Regions from separate parts of the Homo sapiens genome. Here region 1 is linked to region 2. The links come from fine-mapping of genetic effects on gene expression. Tissue or cell type: unexposed skin. Region 2 holds a variant in brackets; the other region holds the start of a gene. All regions are shown on one strand. Distances are from middle to middle. Region 1 holds the start of TM4SF1-AS1 (TM4SF1 antisense RNA 1). Region 2 overlaps TM4SF1-AS1 (TM4SF1 antisense RNA 1).

What was found. PIP is the estimated chance that this variant, and not a neighbour inherited with it, causes the effect.
Region 1: it holds the start of TM4SF1-AS1, and the variant in region 2 is the best candidate, but not a certain one, in a credible set for the expression of TM4SF1-AS1 in unexposed skin (GTEx, PIP 0.66).

Annotation. Positions count from the first base shown.
Region 1 is chr3:149,374,399-149,379,778 of GRCh38, reverse strand. It overlaps TM4SF1-AS1 (TM4SF1 antisense RNA 1), which reads right to left and starts at 2,001. Exons shown (of 2, transcript NR_109810.1): 1 at 1,464-2,001. It overlaps TM4SF1 (transmembrane 4 L six family member 1), which reads left to right and starts at 2,130. Exons shown (of 5, transcript NM_014220.3): 1 at 2,130-2,408; 2 at 4,010-4,099; 3 at 4,191-4,336. The coding sequence starts at 2,232.
Region 2 is chr3:149,383,460-149,388,839 of GRCh38, reverse strand. It overlaps TM4SF1-AS1 (TM4SF1 antisense RNA 1), which reads right to left. Exons shown (of 2, transcript NR_109810.1): 2 at 2,257-2,468. Among named protein-coding and RNA genes, the nearest start is that of TM4SF1-AS1, 8.4 kb to the right of the region's middle. RefSeq lists an enhancer at 873-2,072. The variant G/T (reference allele first, on the strand shown) is at 2,108.

The sequences.
Region 1 (5,380 bases), 9.1 kb after region 2:
TCACCATGTTGGCCAGGATGGTCTCGATCTCCTGACCTTGTGATCCACCCGCCTCGGCCTCCCAAAGTGCTGGGATTACAGGCGTGAGCCACTGCGCCTGGCCGCAAGACACCTTCTTTACAAGGCAACAGGAAAGACAATCATCAAGAGAAGGGGGAAGAGCTCCGTATAAAACTGTCAGATCTCATGAGAACTCACTCACTATCACAAGAACAGCATGGGGGAAACTGCTGCCATGATTCAGTTCCCTCCCCCCAGTCTCTCACTTGACACGTGAGGATTATGGGGATTACAATTCAAGATGAGATTTGGGTGGGGACACAAAGCCTAACCATATCAGTAGTTTAAGCATCACTTTCCCCCATTTTGGCCCCAGGTGGGATAGATCAGCAGACAGGAGGGTTGCAATGATTATGCTTCAACAAAGGATGCCGTCATTCACCCATAGGCTCTGTCACCAGTGGAATCCTGTCTCTAAGCCATCGGGCCAAACACACGTTCCCTGTTGTTGGACACATAGTGGTGACCCAATGACACTCTTATGAGGATTTGCCTGCCTCCGCCTGAGCAGGTGGGTGGTTCCACGCTTCCCAACTCCACTGATTTATTTCCTCAGGCCATCCTGGATTCTGGCTTCACCCCTGTTAGTGTGCTGAGGCCACACTTCTTGGGCCCTCCTCCGGTCCCATGCCACATCACTAACCACAGCTGGTCTCCTCAAATTTGGTATGTGTCCCGCCCTCTAGTTCCGGGCCAAATCCTTCAGACTCTAGATTCGTGAACCTCATTCACCTTCTTCTTCTAAGCTAATGCCTCCCTACCTTGGTCCTTTTCTATTTTCTGTACTCTCTATCTTGTCCTGGTGACAAGGCCCTCCAGGCCTGGCCCCACCCGGCCACCCTGTCCACCTCCCACCACCATCCACTGGCTGGTGCAATCTGCTGTTCAAGGCATAAATTTATTCAGTGCCCAGCCCCTCCTTCTGCAAGGTAACCACCTAGAAAGTTAGTCTAACACCCTTTCTCTGCCCTGTGTGGGGAGCCTGTGGAAGCTGGTCTCAGGATCTGGCTGGGTAAACCATCTGTTTACCTCTGTGTGGGTTCTGACACTCCTAGCCAGTTCTGTTTCTCTGAACCTTGTTTCTCCACTCTGCTTGCCAAGTCCCTTTGTCTTATTTTTTTCTCCCTCTCCCTCCTTCCTTCCCTCCCCCCATCCTTCCTTCCTTTTTTCCTTCCTTCCTTCCTCCCTCCCTCCCTTCCTCCCTTTTTCCCTCTCTCCTTCTCTCCCTCCTTCTCTTCTTTCCTTCCTCTCTTCCTTCCTCCTTTCCTCTTTCCTTCTCTCCCATTCTCTTCCTCCCCCTCTCTTCTTCCTCTTTTTATTTTTGTCCCATGCTTTAGGCCTTCCTTGGCCCTTCCTGGCATTGCTTTTCCTGACAGCAACACTCAATAATTTTTAAAAAGCACCTGAGCCCTTTGTGTTGACTGATGCCACCTCTGTTGTGGTGCAGATTTGTTTTAGAGGCAGATGTCCAGGGACGCTGAACACTGAAATCCATCCTGCAGAGCTTGCTGTAGGCAGAGTAAAGAAGTTTGCTCTGTAGTTTTCCCAACAGCCTTCTCAAATCCATGGGAGACGTCTCAGACACCTTGTATTTAATAGACAAGGAAATGAGCTCAGGAGATTTGCCCCAGGTTGTAAATTAAATCAGCACAAAGGTAGAAATGAACACAGAGCTCTCAGATTGGAAGCTGTCCAGACAGCTGCATGGAGCAGGGGCACAGCTCACTGTCTTTCAAAGCCTCAACCAGGGCTGTTGCATCTCGGACACTTGGCAGTTACTGGAAAGTCATGTTAGGCTTTCCTGTTGATTCTTTATCTTGTGGAGGAGTTGCACAGTCAATGCCTTGTTCAAGATTAATCATTTTCCCTGTTGCCTATGACTGAGGCTGTTTCTCACATCCTGCCCCTGGTTTTGCCTGTCCCAAGGATTTCGTCTGAAGGGCGGGACATTCCCCCTGCCTCTTCGCACCACAGCCAGAGCCTGCCATTAGGACCAATGAAAGCAAAGTACCTCATCCCCTCAGTGACTAAGAATCGCAGTATTTAAGAGGTAGCAGGAATGGGCTGAGAGTGGTGTTTGCTTTCTCCACCAGAAGGGCACACTTTCATCTAATTTGGGGTATCACTGAGCTGAAGACAAAGAGAAGGGGGAGAAAACCTAGCAGACCACCATGTGCTATGGGAAGTGTGCACGATGCATCGGACATTCTCTGGTGGGGCTCGCCCTCCTGTGCATCGCGGCTAATATTTTGCTTTACTTTCCCAATGGGGAAACAAAGTATGCCTCCGAAAACCACCTCAGCCGCTTCGTGTGGTTCTTTTCTGGCATCGTAGGAGGTGGCCTGCTGGTAAGTCATTCAGGATTATTACTGAATTCTCTCCTGTTTCCTAGATGTTTTCATTATGTATTTTCATGGAAAGTTTTTTGTAATGCATATTTCTAAATCAAGTGACTTTTTTGTTGCTGTTCATTCCTTTGAAAGCAGATTATACAAAAGCGAGATTGGTACAGTATAGCGTAGTAATTTTATGAGATGTTGTTTTACAAAATGCTCTTTCAACTAAAAGTGAACTGCCTTTTTGCTAAACTCTATAGGTAGGAAACAGATATTCGCTTTTAAATCAGATTTGAGAGACTATAGAGTTTCTACTAGAACGGGCAGTCATTTAACATTTGCTCTGGGGAGCCGGAAGGGGTTGGCTGGTTCTCTGCCTAAATCAACAGTTTTGAATCCAAATTCTCTGCTGTTTATTTTCAGCCATCTGTGATAGGGAAAAATAATGAATTGTGAGTGCATTGCTATTTTAAAAGAACTCTAAGCTTTCTCCTTTATGTAAGGCTGGGGTGTGGCGTCTAGGAAAAACCCTACAGTTAGCAGCAGGTCGGTGTCTGAAGCTAATAGTGGAATGTGTTATTTTTTCCAAGAATTGTTTTTGATTGAAGTGAGAGGAATTTCCCTGCCAACCTGGGAGCTGAAAGCATTAGCTTCAACCACAGCATGGAAAGAATGTGAGCAAACTTAAGTTTGCTACTTTAAAGTGCTGGGATTAAAAATTTTAAGGAGAAATTTTATGGAATGGTACCATACGTGATAAATTTTCTTAATCAAGTAAAAGATAGTAAAACATTTAAACCTAATACACTGATTATGGCATGGCAAATCTGCCCTAAATTATTTATTTAATGAGATTTTATTTAATTTTATTTTATTTAATGAGACGGGGTTTCGCCATGTTGCCCAGGCTGGTCTTGAACTCATGGGCCCAAGTGACCCTCCTACCTTGGCCTCCCAAAGTGCTGGGATTACAGGCATGAGCCACAGTGCCCGTCTGCCTCAAATTTAAGCATTATTATCATGTTAACATGATTATTTGTCTTAAACATAACATCACACTTAAGTTTCTTTCGATCTTGAACCTGAAGTATTTCATATTTACTATATTTTAAGAGCTTAATATTGTTAAGTTAAAACTATGCATTTGTATAATCAAGGAAGCAGTTAATATTTATTATATATAGCTTTCATGTCTCCCATTTACAAAAAAGTTTCAGTTATTCTATTAAAGATTTGTTGGTATATTCTGCATTTTACAAGTGGAAAAAATCAGATTTAAAGAAAGGGTTTAATATTTCCAAAACAGAGTTTGTTATCTGGGGTCGTGTGATAAACTCTTGTGGAATAAACACGTTTACAGTTTATTATTTTACTCCTCCCATGTTACATCCTCACCCTAAAAAATGCTTTGACAGATTACATGAAAACAAGCAGATATGACATTTAAATGGTCTTTTTCTCCTCAGAGGTTTACATTCTTTGAGATATCTGGTCAACCTAATCAAAGCCAGTTAATGTCATTGGAAATAAATATATTTTACCAAGAGATGCCTAACCTGACCCATATGAGCCTGAGCAAGACAATGACCTGACTTTGTTTGTTTCCTAACCAGATGCTCCTGCCAGCATTTGTCTTCATTGGGCTGGAACAGGATGACTGCTGTGGCTGCTGTGGCCATGAAAACTGTGGCAAACGATGTGCGGTAGGTCCTCCTGCCCTGGTGGTGAAAATGACTCCTAAGATGTAGCTGTGGCACTCTGTGGCTCACTTCCTGTGTGTCTGCTTTTCCCTAGATGCTTTCTTCTGTATTGGCTGCTCTCATTGGAATTGCAGGATCTGGCTACTGTGTCATTGTGGCAGCCCTTGGCTTAGCAGAAGGACCACTATGTCTTGATTCCCTCGGCCAGTGGAACTACACCTTTGCCAGCACTGAGGGCCAGTATGTAATTACTCTCTACATGGCTACACATTTTTATCCACCACATGTATATAGTGGCAGCTCTATCAAACCAGATAGGCATCCACTTATCCATCCATCCACCCACCTAGCCAGTGTTTATTCTCACTGACTCAGGCATGGTTTAGGCAATAGGTATCCAAGGATGGATCCCCAGTCCCCGACCTAAACAAATTCTAAATGCTTCTTTTCTTTTCTTTCTTTCTTTTTTTTTCCCCCAGAGACAGGGTCTTGATCTGTCACCCAGGCTAGAATGCAGTGGCACAATCATAGCTTACTGCAGCCTCTAACTCCTGAGCTCAAGCAATACCCCTTCCTCAGCTTCCCAAATACAGAGTGCTTTTGAATAGATTCAATAATTCAGTCCTTATAATAACCCTATGAAGTGACTTCCTATTTTAAAGATGAGGAAACAAAATCACAGAGAGATGGAGTAATTCATCCAAGGTCACGTTGCCAGAAAGTGGCAGTTAGCATTTGAACCCAGGCAGTCTAGATGTAGAGTTTGTGTTCATATAGTGCATCTCAATTACTTCATACATTATACCAGAACAATTGCCTGATTAAGTGTAATACATTTTACTACTTTATAAGAAAGTATTATAGAATCCATATATAATAAGAATGGCAACTATATGAATTTAACCCAAGCCCAGGGCAAACCATGCCCTTACCCCTGTGTATACATGCACTCATATAAAACATACACATACATACACTCATATAAAACATACAAACTATGTACAATGCCCCCTTTTTTAGTTATTAAGCTATATAAGTAAGGCCTATTCACAATCATAATATCAGGATAATTTGTGCTGTTCTACCATTCTATGTTGATACTTATTTTTTTTATCAGTTATCCAGAAAAGAACAGAAACAGCACAGCTGATAGAAACGGATGTATGTGGTGATGAATGGATGACATGTTTCTTTGAGCAGGAGTTGATTCTGAGTTTCCCTTTTCCCTACTCAACTTTCTGAAGTTGAATTTTGAAAGGTTTAGTTTTGAGATTCATGATTAAA
Region 2 (5,380 bases):
TAGAGCCTATGGAAAGTATTCAAACCTAAACAGTTCATCTTGCCCTGCTTTTCACATGACCATGGGCCTGGATCTCCTCTCACTCCTGCCCCTCTGCCTCCTGGCCACCCCAGAGCTTTCCCCCAAGGCCCTTTGTGGTGTCCTGTGCCTCTTGTCTTTAGGATCTGTGAGTACAGTAAACTGTGTTTTCCTGAGCCTCCTTATATGTCCTCTTGTGACCTCACCTGAATGATCATCTCATGAAAGAACACAGAACACCAGCACAAAATATTCCATAATCATCTCATATTGTTGTTTCAGCCCTGATATCAGCCACCACTTCTCCGAAGTCCAAAGTGCCTTCATTCCTTTCATTGGAGAACCATATTTAGAAACCAATATCTAGGCACTACGTGTATTTTACCTATAATGGTATTAACACTCGTGGTAATACTTGTTCTCTTCAGACCAGTTCCTCCAGGTTGGAGGCAACACCGTACAGTGATTAAGAGGCTCTGGATCTAGACTGCCTGAATTAAAATTCTGGCCACGCTGGACAATCTGTGAAGCCTTGGGAAAGGCACTTAAGCTCTTACAGTTTTATACCCTGTGTGATAGTGTTTACGATAGCACCTACCTCAGAAGGTTGCTGTGGAACGTAGTAAGATATGAGTGTGACGCTCTTAGACTCATGCCTGACATTCAGGGATTACTCAGTAAATATTTGTTGGGTGAATGATCCTTATGTTGATCAGAAGCTCTAACTGAAGAATGAAAATGAGGGGGAAATCTTGCTCCACGTCCTTTTCAGACAATAATTAACGTATTGATTTGTCAGAGATCTCATCCTCCTGTGAGACTATCTTCCTTTAAGACTTTAAGAATTCCCTGTAATAATCTTTTTAGTTGTCTTTAATGTATTGACAACCTAGAAGAAATCCCTGTAAAATGTCACATATGTGATCTAGAAGGAAAAAAAATGCTTTCCACTTACACTTGTTTATGTTCTTCCTTCTTCTTCATTAAAAAAATAGAAAAGAACTCACACAAGCCTGGTGCCAAACCTGGATGTGTCTCTGTGTCCAGGACTCTGATTCCTAAAAACATCGAGTCATTATAGAAGACATCAGGACCACTGAGAAGACAGTCAGGAAATCAGAGGGGGAGAAGGTCAAGAAGGACGAGGCCCTGCAATCCTTTTTATTCCCCTGGTGTCCTCAGGATGGTGAATAAGAACTCTAGGAACCTGCACCTGCAAAAGAAGATCCAGGGCAATGTAGAGATTCCACATCCTGAGCTTTCTTTGATGTCTTCTTGCCAGCTATCCCCAATTCCTGATTTAGTTCCTCTTAGGGACAGCTATTCTGAAGGGTCTCATCAGAGAAGCTTATTTGGTTTCTATTGGACAAGGAATACATGCATTATAAACATTCCAGATAATGTTTATGTTTCAAATTGGTTTTTCAGTTCCTTTGCAATTCTTGCTCAAGTTTTCCTCACCTTCTAAGTCTGAAAAAGTAATTTCCAAATCATGGTGAAGGCATTATTGAAAAATCAGGACCTTGTAGAATCTTACAGTCATTTGGCCAGGCTAACGGTTTAACCTGAAAGTGGAATGGATTTCCCATCCGGGTTCCCATAGTGAACAACTATGTTTTTGTAACATAACACAATGAAGGGAGTTGTCACTAGATGACTCAGCTAGTTAGAATCTCAACTCCCTTTCTGGGGAGGAAATCTGAAGCACGGTGTTTGTATTAGAGGCTAGGGTCATGCTTATTTGGACTTCAGTTCTCCCGCATCAAAGCCAGTCAGAGACTATGAACAGGTAGGGGGAAGGAAGGTCAACTGTCCACCTGGGCCAGAAGAGCAAGAAGTGTAGCCAAACCAAATCTGACATTTTTTTGGGTGTCTGTCTTTCTAACACATATGCTCACTCGTTCTGTCTCTCTCTCTCTCTCTCTCTCACACACACACACACACACACACGTTTCAACTCTCCACTGCTGTAAAGCTGTTCTTGGTAAAATTCCCTAGGGCAAAATCAACTGTAACTTGAGTTTTCAACTCACTTAGTATCAGTGGGAAATTTGCCATGTTGGACTTTGACAACCACAAAAACCAGTTT[G/T]ACTGAGAGTGGCGAGGCCATGAGGTCTAGGTGGAGTATGAACTCACCAACTTGGAATGATTACTTGGAGAATGCTCACACTGCCTCTTATTTATGCTTCTGTCCAAGTCTTTGAGAGTGCTGAAGTCATAGAAATGACCAAACAAATATATAGTACGACACTTTTTAATTCAGAACTCAACCACAAAAAAAATGCTCCTCTGTCACCAGGGATCCCTGGAAAATGGTGTCTAAAAATCAGCTCTGAGCAAACCATCCTCAGTTCTTGTCCTTGTGGCATCTTCAACTCCCAACTGATGGAAATCTCACTGGTCTGAACTTCAAATGGTATGAAAGCAGGAGTGGAGAGTTTCACCCCAACCTTTCTGCAAAAAAGCAAGCATATTTTATATAAGGTCAAAAGGCCATGTGAGGCAGGAGAATAGAGACTGGAGGCAGGGAACCTAAGGCTTTTCACACTGACTTCCTAGAACTAAATTGAAAGGAAAACCCTAACTTTCCATGCCTCAGTAACAGAAGGACCAGAGGCTACTCCCTTTGACCTTTTCTGCGTGGCAGTTGGGAAGTTGTCTGTAAGCGACAAATCAGACTTATTGCTGGTAGAGACTTTGTTTGCAATTTAGTAACTTCACTCCAGACTCTGAATGGTCTGACTGTGGCTCTGATCAGACTGATTGTGGACGGAGTCTTCAGTTTGCATAGAAGTATAACTTTGTAACTTCACCCTACCCTCTGATTGGTTGCTTTTTGCAACCAATCAGATGTTTGCACAGGAGTGTGACCTTTGTAACTTCACTTCATCCTCTGGTTGGCTGCTTTCTGCAAGCAATCAGACTGATTGCGGGCTACCACTTCATTTACATGAGGTAAGCATGAAGTGGCCAATGAGAAACTTCCAGGGGTATTTGGACCCAAGAAGATTCTGTATTTGGGCCCTTGAGCTGGTGCTCGGGCCCACTTCCACACTGTGGAGTGTACTTTCATTTTCAATAAATCCCTGCTTTTGTTCTTTTGTTGCTCCATTCTTTGCTTTGCTGGGCGTTTTGTCCAATTCTTTGTTCAAAACGCCAAGAACCTGGACAACTTGCAATCATGACCAGTGACACAGGTAGGGAAATCCTTTTACAAGTTAGACCAGGGTAAAGGAAATGAAAATAGGCCCTATTATTTCTCTCCTCTACTGAATCTAGACAATTCTTTTAAAAACTTTTCATTGCACACATCTCTTGTTTGTTGATAGTTCTATTTTGCTACAGTAAAACCAAGTTTGTAGAACAGGAGCTGTAGCTTTAATTTTGAGACATCAGGTTAACCTTGAAATCATTCATCGAATTAAAGTAGAATCCAAGTGATTAATGTCTCAAAATTGTGTTATTTAGAAGTGCCAAAGAAACAGTCCCCGAATCTGATCAACATTGTAGTAAAATCAGCCCAGTGTGTGAAGGAAAGAGCATGGGTATGTGAGTCAGGGAGACTTGCGTAGGAGGAATCCAGGCCTAATTACTCGCCAGCCTTGTGACTTTGGCCTGCATGCTTAACCCAGATGAGCTTCAGTTTCCTCACCTGTAAACAGCTTTGCACAACGGAGCTGTAAAGTTAAATGACGGCATCAGAGTGACTTGCATGTGCCCACTCTCCTTCTGCTCCACGCTCCTCTTCCCCTGAATGCACAGAAACTGGATACGTATTACCCAGGAACCCTGAACAGTTTTTGTCATTCTCCCCAAAGGCAGCTGTGATCTGTGGAAGGAGGCCAGCAGGAGAGAACTTGCTACTTTTCCCAGGGAGGACCTGGTCTCCCATCAGACAGAGAGAGGAGCTGCAAGTGGCCTGCTACTTCTCCTGCCTCACAAAGAGAACCACTTGGTGAACCGGGTTCAAAAGGTGCAAACACATGAATTCATCAGTTTAAAGTTTTTAGGGTTTTTTTTTTTTATTTTAATCAATGGTTTTTCTTCTCAACTGAAATGAACCTTGCTGGACTTGCGTAGCCTCATGTATAAAACTAGAAAGTTGGGCCACCTACATCAGTGGACTTCAACTCTGCTTGGGCACTGGAGTCATTTGGAGGACTTACTTAAAATGCAGATTCCTGGCCTCACCCACAGACATTCTGTTTCCCTTGGGCTGAATCAGGGTGTGTCGTTTTAGAAAACCATAGACCGTTTTCTGTTGAAAATCAAATGGTCTTTGAAGCCCTCCACATCTCACATGCCAGGCTCTAATTATTCAACCCAAGGAAATGATACTCAAATCAGAACATGAGAGTCCTTTCCCCTTCAAGTATTTATGCACTAGTTGCCCTAGGTGCCCTGGATGCCTTCAGCTCACCCATTCAAGAGGAAGTCACACCAGCCCTTCTGGGTAGCTAGCCCTCAGGAAGGGAGACCCAGAGCCACATCTTGAGCTTCAGACCACAGGGCAGGCACCCCAGGAGGTGTCTTGTCTGAAAATGGTAACTGAGACCTGGGAGAGTTCTTGGCTTAATGAGCCATCAGCTGAGCAATGTTGAACTAAAATTACCAGATAAAGATGGGGAATTGGTGATTAATTCTGGTTTAATTGGGCCAACAGAGCTTATTTTTTAGCCCAAGAATAACTTGAGCTACAACCTAAAGTGAAGGGAAAGCCAGGAAGCTGTGTGTAAGGTGGTTTTACACTACTCCCTGCCTCTGCATCTCTTTACTGTGGTTGTCTGCCTTGATTATGGTTCCAAATAAAGGACAGAAACTGGCTTCCCTGCCTGGTCCCACACTCACCTTTTCCTGAGAATGACTTCTCCTGCATGTACCTGGTTGCAGGGATGGCTCCCAGCAGCCATGTTTATGCAGGCCCCACAGGCATGGGCACCTGACCCCACAGGCATGGGCACCTGGCCTGGTCTTGTCCAATGCATGTCCCTTCTCTCACAATCTGGACTTGGGATGAATCTCTTGAACTGAAAAAACTATAAACTTCAGAACTGTCAGTAGCCATATTTTTTGTGTGTGAACTGAGAACCAGAGACAATGAGACTGCACTAAGAAGAATAAAGTATATGGATAGAAAGAGTCAAAAATGCAAAATGTGGAGTATGACATTCCGAATTTCCAGACCTTTGTTCCCCTGTCCGTGAGTTCCATCATCCTATCTGCATCTCCACCTTTGAAGTTTATAATTAATGCCCCTTTGTTTTAGGTAACTCAACTGGCTTCTGTTACTATAATCAGAATGCTCTAATGAGCATTGTTACTATATAGGAATCATTACATTTGTCATGTTCAAATGAGTAAG